2 separate regions of the Homo sapiens genome follow, and region 1 is linked to region 2. Evidence: fine-mapped expression QTL. Tissue or cell type: testis. Region 2 holds a variant in brackets; the other region holds the start of a gene. All regions are shown on one strand. Distances are from middle to middle.

What was found. PIP is the estimated chance that this variant, and not a neighbour inherited with it, causes the effect.
Region 1: it holds the start of ANTXRL, and the variant in region 2 is fine-mapped to the expression of ANTXRL in testis (GTEx, PIP 0.97).

What each region holds. Positions count from the first base shown.
Region 1 is chr10:46,282,971-46,291,081 of GRCh38, reverse strand. ANTXRL (ANTXR like) reads right to left here and starts at 4,085. Exons shown (of 17, transcript NM_001278688.3): 1 at 3,572-4,085. The coding sequence starts at 3,819. LOC105378577 (a long non-coding RNA gene) reads right to left here and starts at 6,232. Exons shown (of 1, transcript NR_160731.1): 1 at 5,085-6,232. RefSeq lists silencers at 6,042-6,531, 7,896-8,045.
Region 2 is chr10:45,839,214-45,847,321 of GRCh38, reverse strand. AGAP4 (ArfGAP with GTPase domain, ankyrin repeat and PH domain 4) reads left to right here. Exons shown (of 8, transcript NM_001276343.3): 1 at 1-197; 2 at 567-635; 3 at 2,928-2,996; 4 at 5,635-5,669. It also overlaps the pseudogene PARGP1-AGAP4. Among named protein-coding and RNA genes, the nearest start is that of AGAP4, 4.2 kb to the left of the region's middle. The variant AAT/T (reference allele first, on the strand shown) is at 3,092.

The DNA.
Region 1 (8,111 bases), 440 kb before region 2:
AAGACCTAAATGTAAAGGCTAAAACTTTTAAGCTCTTAGTAGAAAACATAACTTTTATGACATTAGATTTGGGGATTTTTTTGGATATGGCACCAAAAACACAGGCAACAAAATTAAAAATAGAAAAGTTGAGACTGTATCCAGATTAAAAACTTTTGTGCATCAAAGGACACTACCAAAGGAGTGAAAAGACAACCTGCAGAATGGGAGGAAATATTTACAACTCATATACCTGATAAGGGATTAATATCCAGAATATACAAAGAACTCCTACAACAACAACGAAAAAGAAACAACAAAAAAATGCAACAAAAAAAATGGGCAAAGGATTTGAATAGACATTTCCTCAAAGAAGATATGCAAATGGCCAATAAGCACATGAAAAGATGCTCCACATCACTAGTCACTAGGGAAATGCCAATGAAAGCCTCAAGGAGATACAACTTCACACCCATTGGGGTGACTATTATCAAAAACCAGAAAATAGCAAATGTTGGGCTTTTGTTGGTGGGAATGCAAAATGGTGCAATCACTGTGGGAAACAGCTTGGCATTTCCTCAGAAAGCTAAACATAGGATCACCATAGGATCCATCAATTGCACTCCCTGGCATATACCAAAAAGAAGTGAGAGTAGGGACTCCAAGAGATACGTATACACCAGCGTTCATAGCAGCATTATTCACAATTGCCAAATGGCAGAAGCAACCCAAGTGTCCATCAACAGACGAAAAGATAAACAGGCCGGGCGAGGTGGCTCACGCTTGGAATCCCAGCGCTTTGGAAGGCCAAGGCCGGGGAATCACGAGGTCAGGAGTTCAAGACCAACCTGTCCAATATGGTGAAACCCTGTATGTACTAAAAAATACAAAAATTAGCCTGGCGTGGTGGCATGCCCCTGTAGTCCCAGCTACTCAGGAGGCTGATGCAGGGAGAATCGCTTGAAACTGGGAGGTGGAGGTTGCAATGAGCCGAGATCGCGCCGCTGAACTCCAGCCAGGCAGCAGAATACTCCAACTCAAAAAAAAAAAAAAAAAAGATAAAGAAAATGTGGTACATATACATACAGAGAAATATTATTCAGCCATAAAAGGGATGAAATTCTGATGGATGCGACAACATGGGATAAACTTGAAAACATTATGCTAAGTGAAAAAGGTCAGACAGAAAAGGCCAAATATTATATGTTTGCTTGATTACATTGTGTGACTCCCCTTACATGAAGTACCTACAATAGGCAAACTCATAGATAGAGAAAATACACTAAAGGTCACTAGGGCTTGGGGAAGGGAGGAATGGGGAGTTATTGTTTAATGGAAATAGAAGTTTTTTGGGTTTTGATGGGGATGGGGTTTGAGACAGGGTCTCACTCTGTCGCCCAGGATGGAGTGCAGTGGTGTAATCTTGACACACAGCAGTCTTGACCTCTCAGGCTCAAGCGATCCTCCTGCCTCAGCTCAGGCTGAGTAGCTGGGAGTGGAGGCACACATCACCATGCCTGGCTAATTTTTGTATGTTTTGTATGGACAGGATTTTGCATGTTTCCCAGGCTGATCTTGAACTCCTAGACTCAAGCGATCCTCTTGCCTTGGCTCCCAAATTGCTGGGATTACAGGAGGGAGCTACTGCTCCCGGCTGAGAATAGAGTTTCAATACGCAATGATGAAACATTTCTGGAGATGGATGGTGGTGATTGCACAACACTGTGAATGTACTTAATGCCGCTGAATTGTACACTTAAAAATGGTAAATTTTTGTTATGTATGTTTTCCCACAATTAAAAAATTACTCAAAAAATACAAGGGGTCATTCCCACTTAGAGCCCTCAAATGTCACCTGGCCAAGAATAGGAGCGCATGGGAGGCTGATTCATTTTCTTCCAGCTCAATCCAATCAATGAACAAGTGAATAATGAGTCTCATGAATAAGCTGGACGCTAATGACCAAAGAGCCTGCCTGCAGGCAGTAGATGTTGTTTCTGCCTGGAGGATTACCGCAAGTTTCTCAGGGTCCCGCCCAGCTGCGTGGTCTTTGGATGGGCTTTGGAGTCACAAAATCCAGAGTTTCAATTCAGCACCATGGTCTATCTGGAGGCTGTGGTGGGTCATTCCCTGGCCATGACCTGGCTCATTGCCTCCTCCTTAGAATGGGGCAATGCCCTTTACCCCCAGCCTTGTTAGGAAGACTCATTAAGGTTGCTTTTGTCTGCTCCCTTTACATCCACTCTAGGCACTCCCTCTGCATTCCCCCTCATCCAGTCTGTCTGGGATTACATCAGGGCCTCTGCAGTTCCTGTGAGTTTCTAGCCTGTGGCTCTGCCTTGCCTGGCAGGTCCCTTCATCCCCATCCTCTGTCATCGCCTCTGACCTGCAAATTCTCCCTTCATCCTCATCACACTTGGCAAGGTGAAAATGAAGATACCCTTTTTACAGATGGGGGACACGAAGGCACAGAATGATGAAGCAACTTGCCCAAGACTATGTGGCTAGTGAGTGGACTCTGCCTGTCTCCAGAACTGAGTTGCTCCTTCCCCAAGAGTAGCAGAACAGTCAGAAACCATGGGAATTGGTGGGCTGGGGTACACGTCCCCTAACCATTAGTATCCAGGAGGAATGAGAAAAATCAGAGGAATTTCAACCTGCGATGCTGGAAAGTGTGCAGCACAGGAAGCCGGAGTCTTGTCACACTAGCTGTCTCTGGATGCTTCCCCAACCTCCAGGAGCCACCCTTGTCCAGGAACCAGATAGAAAAATACCTGTACTACTCACAGCCCAGGATTGTGGTGAGGTGCCAGGAGTGCAGGGGAAGGGCTTTGGAGGCCAGAAAGTGCTGCAACATTCTCCTGAAGATTGCACCACTGCTGCTACTGAATAAGCACAGAGTATTACCACCCAGCAGGAGGAGCAGGAAAGGGAACCAAGGCAATCTCTCCAAAGCTGAACATTTGCCTCTTTTCTTTCCTGGTGAGCCAGAAGGTGCCTAATACGTAGCCCAGCTTCCCCAGGGCCAGCCTGAAACAGACCAAACTGTTCTGAAAGTGTAGGAACTATCGCGTGGCTCTCCAAGTTGCAGAAGAGGCACTTAGAAGCAGCCAACCAAAGGCCTTCTCTAAGCAGTGACATTAGAATGCCCAACACAGGCAACAAAGCAATCTCTGTGGGGCCCAGTAAAATAGAAGTCATTTGCGTGAAAAAACAAACAAGCAAAACAACACAGAAACCCCAAACATCCGCAGTGAGCATCTGAGAACTGCTGAGAGGCAGGTCCGAGCAATCATCTGTTGCAGCAGCGTGAGGATGAGGATGCTGACCCAGCTGATGGAGGGGTAGGGAATCGTCCAGAACCCCTTTGGTGGCTTTTTTCCTCATCCAGGAGATGAAGCACCAGGGAAAAGAAAGCCAGGGCATTCTTTCTGCCTCAGAAAAACAGGAGGCCTAGGTCTGGTCTGACCAAAGTTTGGCCCTGCTTCTGTGACGGAAGCTTGCATCTCCTTGAGTGGTGTCCTGTCCCTAGTGAAAAAGAGACAGTGGCTCCTGAGGGTGACCCAGGGCCAGAGCTAGAAGGGACACTCACTTGTCCAAGATGAAGTAGAGGTCAAATGAGCCCTGGCATCTGTGACCTGCTTGCCCCTGGCGCCAGTGCTGCCTCCATCCTGGGCCATGGTGGTGGTGGGCTCTCCTGGAGCCCAGGGCCAGGCGGTGAAATATTCTCCAGTCAGGTCCATGGTACCGAAGGCTTCCTGCTCTAAAAAGCGGTGGAGGAAGCAGCAGCAGCAGCAGGAAGACCAGGAAGTAGGGCCCCAGGGACTCATGGCTCCCCATTATCTGGCTGTCCCTGTGACCCCACCTCACTCTTGGGTGCCTGTGCCAGGGCCCAGAGAGGCTGAGCACAGGCCCCTTCTTTGCCGCCTCCCCTTATGCCCGGGGCCACACCCCTCCTCCTGCCCTTTCACCAGTGCACACTATGGCCCTCCACCAGGTACCTCCCCAGATCGCAGGGACTAGGGTCAGCAGCTGGCTCTGGGAGACTTGCTTCCAGCTACCTGCCTGGCCCTTCCCCCACCCTGGGGACAGAATTCTCTGTTATGGTTGACAGGAAGGTTGACATGGTGACTTTGTGACCTGCAGCTCTTCCCAATGTCCTGCATGTTGACAACATCAGGGGGAGGCACAGGACCTTTGGAGGGGCTACAAGAGGAAGCCTCCATTTCCCTTATAACAGCCCTCACAGTGTCCCTTAAAACCACTAGACCCTGCTGTTTGTTCATTGGAAGAGTTAGCCCAGGTGAGTTAGGTGAGGACATTGCTGTGGGTGAGGAGGTCAAGGACTGGGAGGCCAGAGTGTTGGCAATGGGAGGTTATTTGTGTGACACTGAAGTCCCCCAGGAGATGGCAGTTCGGGAAGGAGATGGAAACTGCAGTGTTGCCAGAGTCTTTGTGAATGAGGGACATTCCGGTTCTCTACTGCTGTGTAACAGACCACCTACATTTAGGGACACAGAACAGGCCCATTTTATTATGCTCACAGGTTCTGAGGATCAGGCACTCAGGGCGGAGTTAGGAGGGCTCCTCATGTCTGGGGCCCCATAACTTGAAGGATTGGGCACTGGAATTATCTGGAGGCTGCTCCACTCACAAGTGTGGCTCCTAGGCAGGAGGGCCCAAAACCTGGGCTCAGCTGGGACTGTGAATGGAGACCCTGCATGTAGCCTCCCCGTGTGACCTGGGCTTCCTCCCAGCATGGCAGCTTCAGGGTGCTTGGGCTTTTACAGGTGGCCCAGAGGTCCAAGAGTGAGTATTTTCAGTGAGCACGGCAGAAACTGTAGAGCTTTTTATGACATCACCTTGGAAGTCACACAGTGTCACTTCCACTGTGCTCTATTGGTCCAAGCAGTCACAGCTGCCAAGAGTCAATGGGCAGGAACACAGGCCCCCTCTCTAGGGAAAGAATGTGGACAGGTTCACATCCCAGTGTCAAAACTGCTGTATGACCAACGCTTTGAATAGCAGAGAGGTTACAGTGTGTGGAAAGACGTAGGCACCAATGAGTGAGACTCAAACAGGACTCAGAAAAGTCAGACTGTAACTGTTAGAAACACCTTAATCAATTTTATTTTATTTTGTATGCACAAGAGTGATATCCAATTAAAAATCGTTCTCTAATAAGTCTAAAATATATCTTTCAATATGTGTAATATACAAATTACAAGTGATAAAAGTATTGGGTTAGTTTTTTGTTCTTTGATTTCTTTTGTTTTGGAACTGTATTTAATATAATAGAGTATCTTAAATAAGGGGTATTTCAGAATGAATGAAGCCCAGTATATTTCCTTCAAAAGCATATTTGAGCTATCTTGCTTCATTCTTCTTGATACTTGGTATTAGCATACTTTAATATTTTTGCCTGGTGGTAAGTCATCTCCTTGTGGTTTACTTTTTTCTTATTTTATTTATTTATTTTTTTGTAGAGACAGGGTCTTGCTATGTTTCCCAGGCTAGACTCCACCTCCTGGCCTCAAGGGATCCTCTGGCCCTGGACTCCCAAGCGCTGAGATTAGAGGTGTGTGAGCCACCCTCACTGCCCTCTTTGTGGTCTTAATTTGCTATTTCCTAATTACTAATGGGAACTGGTCACCTACTCACTTGATTTTGGTCGTTCATGGTTCCTCTTTGAAGTGCCTATTTAATGCCGGCATCCATTCTTTGCTTCAGGTGTTTTTCTCTTTCACATTGACTCAATAACAGTCTTTATATATCCTGGATACTAATCCTTTATCACTTGCTGCAAGTATCTTCTTTTACTCTGTGGCTTGTTTTTTTCACTTCATTTATTGTTTTTTAAACAAAGCCTAAGTTCTTAATTTTAACGTACTTGAACTGACATTTTCTACCCTGGCCCCCTCCCACCCTTAGTTCCCAGACACCTCTTATGATCTGGGGTCGAGGAGCCCGCCTTCCTGGCGGTCTCAGCTGGGGCCTGGGGAGCGAAGGCGGCGGGCGCTCGCGGGAGGAGCTGCGCGATTCGGATGCTGGGGAGGTGAAGCTCGCGGGGCCGCCAGGCCGCCGGGGTAAGGAAGGCCGGGAGGCCGCGGGGGTCCACGGCGCGGAGGGAGCCGCAGGCACCGGGCACAGCCCTCGCCCATCGCCGAGACCCGGCAGGCCCAGGAGCCAGAGGGCGGCGGCGTGAGAGGGAACCGCCTCCAAAGGACGCCCTCGCCCTCCCGCAGGCATAGTCGCAGGCGCCAGTCCCGGTCCGAGCCAGCTGGGGGTGGCTCCGGGGAGCTGAGCCGGGGGAGGGCCGGGCCGCCCAACGGATCAATAGGGGGGTTTCTCCCAGGTTGCCGTTTCTCTGGCCCGCGACGCCCTACCCGCCGGAGCCGCCCAACCGCAAGCCCCGCCCCGAAGGCGGGTGCAGCCAGGAAGGCGGGGCCTGGTGGCCTCTGGGCGCTGGCGCCAAGTTCAGAGCCGCGCCCTGGGCTGGGCGGTGGCGGCCGCGTCTGCACTTCCCCCCCTGCGCGCCTCTGGAGAGCCCGGGAGAGACGCACCCTCAGGTCGGCCAAGACCGAGAACAAGCGGGCGCGGGCAGCGGAGCCCATCTCACTTGCACGAAAGGCAGCGTTCTTGAGTCCTGCCTTTGACGGCGGGGGGTTCTTCCCTTCCCTCTGTCAGCTTCCTCCAGCTCTCTCCCATGTCCTTTCCGAGTCCCATTGCTGTCCCTGTCTCTTGCCTCTCTGCTTCTTGTCTCCTTGTCCTCTCCTGTTTCTCTCATCTCTCCCTTTTTCTTGTGTCCGCCTTGTTGGCTATTTCTCTTTTATCCTTTTTCCTTCTCTCTCTTTCGGCCTCTCCCCTCACTCTCCCTATAGGCTTCCTTCTCTCTTGCAAGCAAGAATTCTTCTTATGTTTTTCCCCTAAGGTGACTTCTTGGCCATAATCGTTTGCATCCACCCCTCCCCGCCCCAGCCCTCTCTCTGTTCATCTTGTAGTGCCCCATTATTCTCATCCAGGGCTTGTGCTAGGTGCTGGCGTCTTCAGCCCAGATCCTTTCTCCAACAGAGTATATACAAAGATCTGCACATGTAACCCGTTCAGTGCCTTTCCTGGGAAAAAGTACATAGATGATCAAATTATAAATCTCTGAATTTTCAGGGTCACCTGAAAAAAATACCTGGTTTTAGATACAAGACAATTGAATCCTTTTCTTGACATTTTGCGTTTACTCATAGAGGCACAGACAGCACAGCAGGAAGCTAAGCCTTGCAGAAGCTTTTAGGGGACATTGCCACCCACACCTTCTGTGCAATGCCAGGTGCAGGGGAGGCAAGGGACAGGATACAGACCTGGGTTGTGGGAAGACAGTGGGAGGCCAGGGCTTTGCACTTGAAACATTTGGGTGAGACTGACTGGAAATAAGAAATTAACAGTAAATTTCTAAAATATGTAGTTGCTTTGCCTCCTCAGAAATAATGGAACCTGATGTTGTGGTATATTGTGATCTTTAATGATATTCCAGCTTTTGACCAGCTTCTGTGGAACATCTCTACCCTGCCCTGCAGACTACCCTGTGACTCCTGGAAGTCTAGGTCCTTTGTTGCATGGAGAGGATGCAAACCACGTGCTGCAGCTCCCGATGCCTTTTCCGAGCAGATTCCTCAGAGGGGGTGCCTGACATCAGAGATGAATTTCAGCCAATGCCTCCGAAGAGGCAGATGCAGAAACCTCACTCCTCTCAGTAACCCTGAGCAAAGCACTCAACCTCTCTGAGCCTCGGGTTTCCATCTGTAAAATGGGCTCAAGCTAAGTTGTCTCTCCAGACTGTCAGGCGGCGCGCAGGGAGGAGGTGCAGACGCGGCCGCCACCGCCAAGCGCCCAGCGCGCGGCTCTGAACTTGGCGCCAGAGCCCTGAGGACACCAGGCCCCGCCTTCCTGGCCGCACACGCCTTCGGGGCAGGGCTTGTGGGTGGGCGGCCCCCGCGCGGGAGGGTGCCGCGGGCCAGAGAACTCGCAATCCGGGAGAAAGCCTCTGATCAGCTGGGCAGCCCAGCCCTCCCCGGGCTCAGCTCGGCGGACAGCCCTCTGATGGCTCGGGCTGGGCCGGGCGCCGGCGCCTGCGGGAG
Region 2 (8,108 bases):
GCACCCTAGCGTCAGCCTCGAGTTTGACCAGCAGCAGGGGTCGGTGTGTCCCTCTGAATCTGAGATCTATGAGGCAGGAGCTGGGGACAGGATGGCAGGAGCGCCCATGGCTGCTGCTGTACAGCCTGCTGAGGTGACTGTTGAAGTTGGTGAGGACCTCCACATGCACCACGTTCGTGACCGGGAGATGCCTGAAGGTGAGGAGGTGATAGGTGCCATCTACCCTCGGTTTGCCTCTGGCTGCTACTGTCCCCAAGGTTCCCTTTGAGGCATCCCCCACTTCGAGCTCCTTTCTGCTTGTAGCCAGCTTTCCCGGGAGCTGGCCAGGAACAAAAGCTGGCTCTGCCTTGAATTCCCACCCCTTAGTATTTCCCCACCGAGTCCAGTCAGTTTCTTTTCGCCTCCCCTCCCAATCGCCCAGTTCTTGCTCTCTCATCTCATTCTCCCAGGCTGGCATGGGACCATTTATTTATGGCTCTTGTCGAATAAGCAGCAGTTGAATAAATGAGTTGATAAATTTTTATAAATGATTACATCTTTTTTCTTTTCTCCCTCTATACATATAGCTTTGGAGTTTAACCTTTCTGCCAATCCAGAGGCAAGCACAATATTCCAGAGGAACTCTCAAACAGATGGTGAGACAACAGTGTCTGTAGCTCTGTTTATTATCCTGTGGGACTTTGTTTAGGCTTCTTTGAGCTATTCTCTTCCTTTTCTCAATAAAAACTCAAATATCCCAACTTTTCAGTACCCATCTTATTTTTTCTTTGTACCTATCCAGATGGTACCTAAGTGAAGGAACCAGGTAAGTGCCTAATTGTTTCCTTTGTTAAAGTAGCCAAATCTCAAGACAGTTCCTATTCAAATATTTGGGGATTTCTTATTTAAAATCAGAATGGAGTTTGCCATGGGAGAGGCTATATGGTATTCTTAATGGGCTGCTTTAAGTCACCTTGATAGAAGCTGCTTAGTTTCTTCTAACTGTAATTTGAACACAGAAGGAAAAAGAAAAAAGGAGAGTGCTTAAAATAATTGTGAAAGGTGTGAAATGTCACAGCCGGGGCTGCAGAAAAATGGTTGTGTGTGTGTGTTTGGGGTTTCTCAAAGGAGTTTACCTATGAAGCTCTTTTCTGTTAAAGTTCTTACTTTAACAGAAAATGTGTCTCCAGATTTATTCTGGTGACTTAACAGACTTTATTTACCTCCTTGTTCTAAAAGAGAGGTGGGGATTGGTTCATGGTCAAAACTTTCAAAAGACATGAAACGTCAATGTAGACTTTCAATGTGTAATATAAAGATTGCAGGTTAAAATGTCAGACCTTCCCTGTAAGAGTGTTTGTTGCCATGGCTCCCCCTTTGTCCCTTCCCCTCCTGACAATAGCATCTTGTTCAAAGATAAGAAAGTTACAGTTTTGGCTGGGCTTGGTGGCTCACGCCTGTAATCCCAGCACTTTGGGAGGCCGTGGCAGGCGGATCACCTGAGGTCAGGAGTTCCAGACCAGCCTGGCCAACATGGTGAAACGCTGTCTCTACTAAAAAAAAAATACAAAAATTAGCTGGGCGTAGTGGCACATGACTGTAGTTCCAGCTACTCACAAGGCTGAGGCAGGAGAATTGCTTGGACCTGGGAGGTGGAGGTTGCAGTGAGCAGAGATCACGCCAATGCACTCCAGCCTGGGTGACAGAGCGAGACTCCGTCTCACAAAAAAAAAAAGGAAAGAAAGTTGGAGTTTTTTAGTCTCTACACTGCTGGCAGAGGCAGGGGATGGGAGCCGGTAGAAAAGAGAAAACAATTAGTTCGTTTGCCTCTAAAATTTTGCAAAGAGATGAATCTAAGTAAAAGTAATTCTGGGTAATAATATGGTTCTTGAATAAAAACTGAAATTTTCAAAATAGAAAACATTGCATCATAAACATATTACATCCAGTAGGCTTATTGTTTTCATTTAAATGCCAGAGATTTCATCACTGTAGAGGAAATGTCTTATAGCTCTTCTATTTAAACTTTGGTTGCGCTCTTAATTTTTAAAGAGGTAGGATAATTAAGACTCATTATGAGTGTGACTTTGTAACTTGGAAGTACTATCTTCACATTTCAAGATATTTAAGGATTGCTTTAGAATAAACAAATGTATTATGTGAATTAATTGATTGTACCTTTATACACAAAGCATGTAAGTACTTGTGTAAACTTATACTCTGCTTGGTGATGTTCGGAAAGCCTGATGGATGTTACACACCAGTTAGTAGATGGGTAGTGTTGGATGAGAGCCCAAAAATGGCTCTTTATTGTCATTCTTTAGGATTACAACACAGTTTATGTATGTCTCACTTGGCCCTTTCCAATACAAATAAGGCCTGTGTATGTTCTCCCTATGTGTTGCTAACGAAGAAATGAAAACTTAGAGATATCACATGACTATGGAAGACAGCTACTCAAGAGAACTAAGGTTCTGTGTCCTCAGAATGAAATGGAAGTGACAGATATGATGAATTTACTTTTTAAAAATTTTAAAAACTCTAGAATACATCTTATATTTTGCCTATAAAATAGACCTGTCTTTTAAAACTTACTGCCATCTTGATTTATTTTATGCAAAGTTGATTTTACACAACTCAAAGCCAAAATTTACCTCTTCTTTTTTTTTTTTTTTTTAAATAAAGGAGGGTGTCATTATGTTACTCATGCTGGCCTCAACTTCCTGACCTGGGTTCAAGTGATTTTCCCATCTCAGCCTCCTGAGTAGCTGGGACTACAAGCATGTGCCATCTTGCCTGGCTCTCTCTTATGTCTATACATTCATTTCAATGGATAAGAATCAAAGTAGAGATAGTGAAATAGCCTAAATGCAGCAGTCGAATAAACGAGTTGATAAATTTTTATCAATGATTACATCTTTTTTTCTTTTCTTCCTCTATGCATATAGCTTTGGAGTTTAACCCTTCTGCCAATCCAGAGGCAAGCACAATATTCCAGAGGAACTCTCAAACAGATGGTGAGACGACATTGTTTTTTCCACCAAGAGAAAGAATAAAAGCTCTTGTTTGATCAGGTTATAGAAAGTATTTAGAAAAACTCATATTGGTTTAA[AAT/T]TTTCATCTTTTCACATGTTCCCTTGTCTTATTTTAATATGTGATATACTTTCCTTTAGTTGTTATGATGTTAGTGAAAACGTGTAACCTTTTTGTTTATACATTTTGCCATCTTTTTATCAACACAATTAATTTGTGATGTGATGGAGGAGTCATGGATTTCTCTTTATAATTCTTGGATTTATCTTTATTTATAATTAATGGATTCATCTTTATTTACAATCCCTTTTCCCTTGCTCCAAAAAGTACATTTTAAAGATGAATGATAGAACTTCAGCTTGGTTTTCATTTAAACAAATTAAAAAACATAGTCGTTTATCATCAGGGATTGAATCTGTGATTTGGGCCTCCTCTTACACAGTCCTCTGACCACATTCATTTACCACATCCAAGTTTACGCTACTCAAAAGTTTTAGGTTATTAACTTTTTCATTTGATATAATGTAAATTTAAACATGCCTTACTCCTGCTTATTTCCCTTAATGTTATATTAAATCCTCATTTATTTGCCAACAAGCCATACACAGCCAAGTTTTCCAGTTGACTTAAACAGCAAGAACACAAGTGAGGGTTCTATTATAATGTGCGAAGTAATGCAGCACAGTAAAACACGGGAGTTTGTAACCTTTGTTTTTATAGTTTGAGTAGACTTTGCCCATCTTGAGTCAGTTATTTCTGGTTAGAATTTGTCTTCATTTTTTACATTACTATAAAGAGATACCTAAGGCTGGGTAATTTATAACAAAAAGAGGTTTAATTGGCTCAAAGATTTTCAGGCTGTACAAACATGGCTTTAACATCTGCTTCTGGTGAGGGCCTCAGCAAACTTACAATCATGATAAAAGGCAAAGGGGAAGCAGGTGGTTCCACACCGTGAAAGAGGGAGGAGAGAGGGGAAGGGGGAAGGTACCACACTCTTTTTTTTTTTTTTTGAAATGGAGTCTCACTCTGTTGCCCAGGCTGGAGTGCAATGGCACGATCTTGGCTCACTACAACCTCCATCTCCCAGGTTCAAGCAATTCTCCTGCCTCAGCCTCCCGAGTAGTTGGGACTATAGGTGGGCACCATAACACCTGGCTAATTTCTGTATTTTTGGTAGAGACAGGGTTTCACCATGTTAGCCAGACTGGTCTGAAACTCCTGACCTCAAGTGATCTACCCGCTTCAGCCTCCCAAAGTGCTGGGATTACAGGCTTCAGCCACCGCACCTGGCCAGTACCACAGTCTTTTAAATTACCATAATGAGAATGTGCTTATTACCATGGGGATGGGACCAAGCCATTCATAAGGAATCCACTGCCATTACCCAAACGCCTCCCACTAGGCCCTGTCTCCAACATTAAGGGTCACATGTTAACATGAGACTTGGAGGGGCAACATATCCAAAACATATCAGAATTGTATTTCCCAGTTCCTTCCAGAGGCATGGGCTTCTCACACCTAGAGAGCATGGAAGCAGTAAAAGAAAAGCTATTCCATGTCCCTCACTCTTCAGTGGTAGTAACTTTTGCCTACAAGGCCCTCCCAGCATCAAAGGCAGAGGCAGTGTAGGAAACAAAGCATGGCCCAAGTCCCTCTTGGGGCTTTTATTATTCTGGCCTCTTTTTAGGGAAAAAAAATGATTTTTTGTGCTGCAGACACCATGTCCAATTAGGTTTGTATACTTATTTTAACATCAAAATTTAGGCCAGGCTCTGTGGCTTACACCTGTAATCCCAACTCTTTGGGAGGTTGAGGTGGGTGGATCACGAGGTTAGGAGATCAAGACCATCCTGGCTAACACAGTGTAACTCTGTCTCTACTAAAAATACAAAAAACAATTAGCTAGGCATGGTGGCACGTGCCTGTGGTCCCAGCTAGTCCGGAGGCTAAGGCTGAAGAATTGCTTGAACCTGGGAGGCAGAGGTTGCAGTGCGCTGAGATCCCGCCACTGCACTCGAGCCTAGGTGACAGAGTGAGACTCCATCTCAAAAAAGAAAACAAATTTAAGATAGGTTACTTTCCAGTTGTGTAAAGACCATTTTTTAATTTTGTTTTGTTTTTAGTGACATATTAGTAGATAACCACTAAGTGTGGTTCAAGATGCTTACAGGGATTCTGTTGCATCTAGAGATAGGTGTCTGGTCAGGAAGTAGTTTTTAGAACTGTTAGCTCTTAGAGTCTGATAATTAAAGTAAGCTATGTGTAAATGCAGAATGAGAGAATACTAATGGATCATGGCTCATATATGCAACAGTTAAACTTTTTATTAGCTAAATTTTTCATCTGGCCTAATTTTTTTGCCCTTTTCTTTTGTACATGAGGATTCTTTCATTTGTGTGTAATAGAAACAAAAAGTAAACTAAATGAAAATCTAAGTTTTTAGATTTGACTTATGAAATTAATCATGCCAGATAATTTAAATTATATGTTATTGAAAATTTTTTTTTTAATGGAATTTTGTCTCATTTTTCATAGGAGTAATCAGTAAGATGTTAACAACTACTTTTATTTTATGGTATTTGTATCAGAAGTGACCAGTTTTTTTTTTTTTATTCTTAGTTGTAGAAATAAGAAGAAGCAACTGTACAAACCATGTAAGTAAACACTCAAATAGTTAAGAAATTGATAGTTTGACATAAAAGGATGTCTCTCTTGATTTCTTTAAATTACAATGTGGACCTGGTGGTGGTAGCATGGACCTCTTTTTGTGGATTTTCTAAATCTCTTCTATTTTCCTGAGTATTAAATTTATCCAGAAAAGTGCTTAGTTTAGCGTGTCCACCTTTTAAAGATTTCTGACATTTAAGTTAAATTTCAATAGTCCGGTTCAAAAGATCTGCCTTAAGGCTGGGCATGGTGGCTAACGTCTGTAATCACAACACTTTAGGAGGCCGAGGCAGGCTGATCATCTGAGGTCAGGAATTTGAGACAACCCTGACCAACATGGTGAAATTCTGTATCTACTAAAAATACAAAAGTAGCTGGGCGTGGTGGTGCATGCCTGTAATCTCAGCTACTCAGGAGGCTGAGGCAGGAGAATCACTTGAACCCAGGAGGCGGAGGTTGCAGTGAGCCAAGATCGCGCCATTGCACTCCAGCCTGGACGACAGAGCAAAACTCTGTCTCAAAAAAAAAAAAAAAATTGCCTTAAATATTTAATCTTATTTTTAATGAAAGAACAAAAATAGAATAGCTAAGTTAATTGCCAGCACTGTCTATTGACTTTCTGTCACAGCAGGTAAAAGCATACCTTCCCCGCTACACCATGATCTTATGTTTCTCCCTGTGTTTCTTCCAATTGTAGCACACTTTTTAATTAAATCAGTAATATTTACATGATTATGACTCTGCAAATATTATTCACTGCTAAGTCATATGGTGTTTTCACTGTGCCTCTGCATTCCATGTCCTTCATCCTGTCTCTGAAACAGTTCTGAAATCTGAGCACTTCTGCAATTCTCCTGGATCTTCTTTTTTCCTAGCCTACGTTAGTTTATCTATCCAAATATCGTTAAGTAGCCTCTGGGTGCTCTGTTTGCTTTCACATCCATTATTTTTTAGCATGAAGCTAATTTTCTGACTATATTCATTTGCCTGTTTTCTAACAGCTGTTTTCCCCCAAGTATTGTAGCATTTATCACATGCCTTTCAAAGATATTTTCCATCTGCGAAAACACATCTGTTCCTTTTTATGTTTGTGTGGGGGGCAACTTTCTTTGGCCTTTTGTCATCCTAGTTCAATATAGCGTGGGTTTCCCTAGATATGCTCAATGTCTGCTTTTCTGGGCTAACTCTTTAAAGTCTTTTGGTATCTCATGTAACTGCTGTCTTGTGTGGGATCGCCTGAGTCCTAGATTCTGTGTTTCCTTCTGTCCTGTTATCGTCTCTAGTTGTACTTGAACACATTTTCCTGTGTGGAGATGTTAAAATCCCTCCTCTTTGATAGAGAGTACACCTCTAGGTTGAATCTAAATTGTATGGTTCTGAAGACATTTTGCAGTTGTGCTCTTATTACAGTGTTGTTCTTGAATCTATTGCCAGTGTGTGATATGTTATTTACAACCAGGTTTTAGTTATCTGCGGAAGCTTTTTAGAATCTCTCTCTCTAAGGTTCTGAAATTTTATAACAGCTTGTTGGGGATCTTTTCATTTTATTGAGGCTACTAAACCTGCAGACTATCTCTTCTTGAGAATTTTTTTTTTTATTTTCTCTGTTACTTTTTTACTGATAGTCTTGTTATTCAGATGCTAGGCTGCTTAGACCAGTACGCCTGCATTGATTTTTAATTTTTCCCCTTGTATTTTTTTCAGTTTGTCTTTTTATTCTAGTTCTGGGATATTCTGTGACTTTATCCTCTACTATTTCTATTGAATTTTATATTTTTTGAGAGTGTTTTAAGATTTTTTTTTAAAGTTTTGCTCCTGATTTTGACTGGTCCTATCAATTCCTTTTTTCTATTGTTTTGATCTCTTTTCTTGGAGGCTTCCCTCCAATGTGTGGTGGTTCCTGGCCTGCTTTATTTGGAAGCAGGATTTCTGTTAACTGATAGCACTCAGTGTGAGGCCTTAGAAGCCTGACTAGCTTTTCATTTGGGAGACCTCAGTGTATTATCTGGGGATCTTTTTTGAAGACATTTCAGTTTCTTCTGAGAAGGATCTCCCAGTTTTCTGCCTGGAAAGTAAAAGCAGGCCTGGAAAGGAAAAGCAGAGTTAGCGAAGAAAGTTGGAGTTCCATTTTTGGTGTACAGTTTTCTTTATATCTCAGGTTTAAGCCATGGTATCTCTGAGCCAGAAATTCTCAGGTTTGATATATCCAGAGAACACACATCTAAGTTTCTTGTCAGATGGAAGGACAGGTGGACTTGGGGCTCTAGTTAGAGATTTGCAACTGACCTTGCTGGCTTTTTTTTTTTTTTCACATTTTACCCTACTTTCCAAAGTGCCATTTGCCTGTAAGTTCACAACCTGCCTTTAGTTCTGCAAGACAAACTGGCTCGCTTCTGTTCCAGTCACTTTCTGTAGGCACCAAAGTT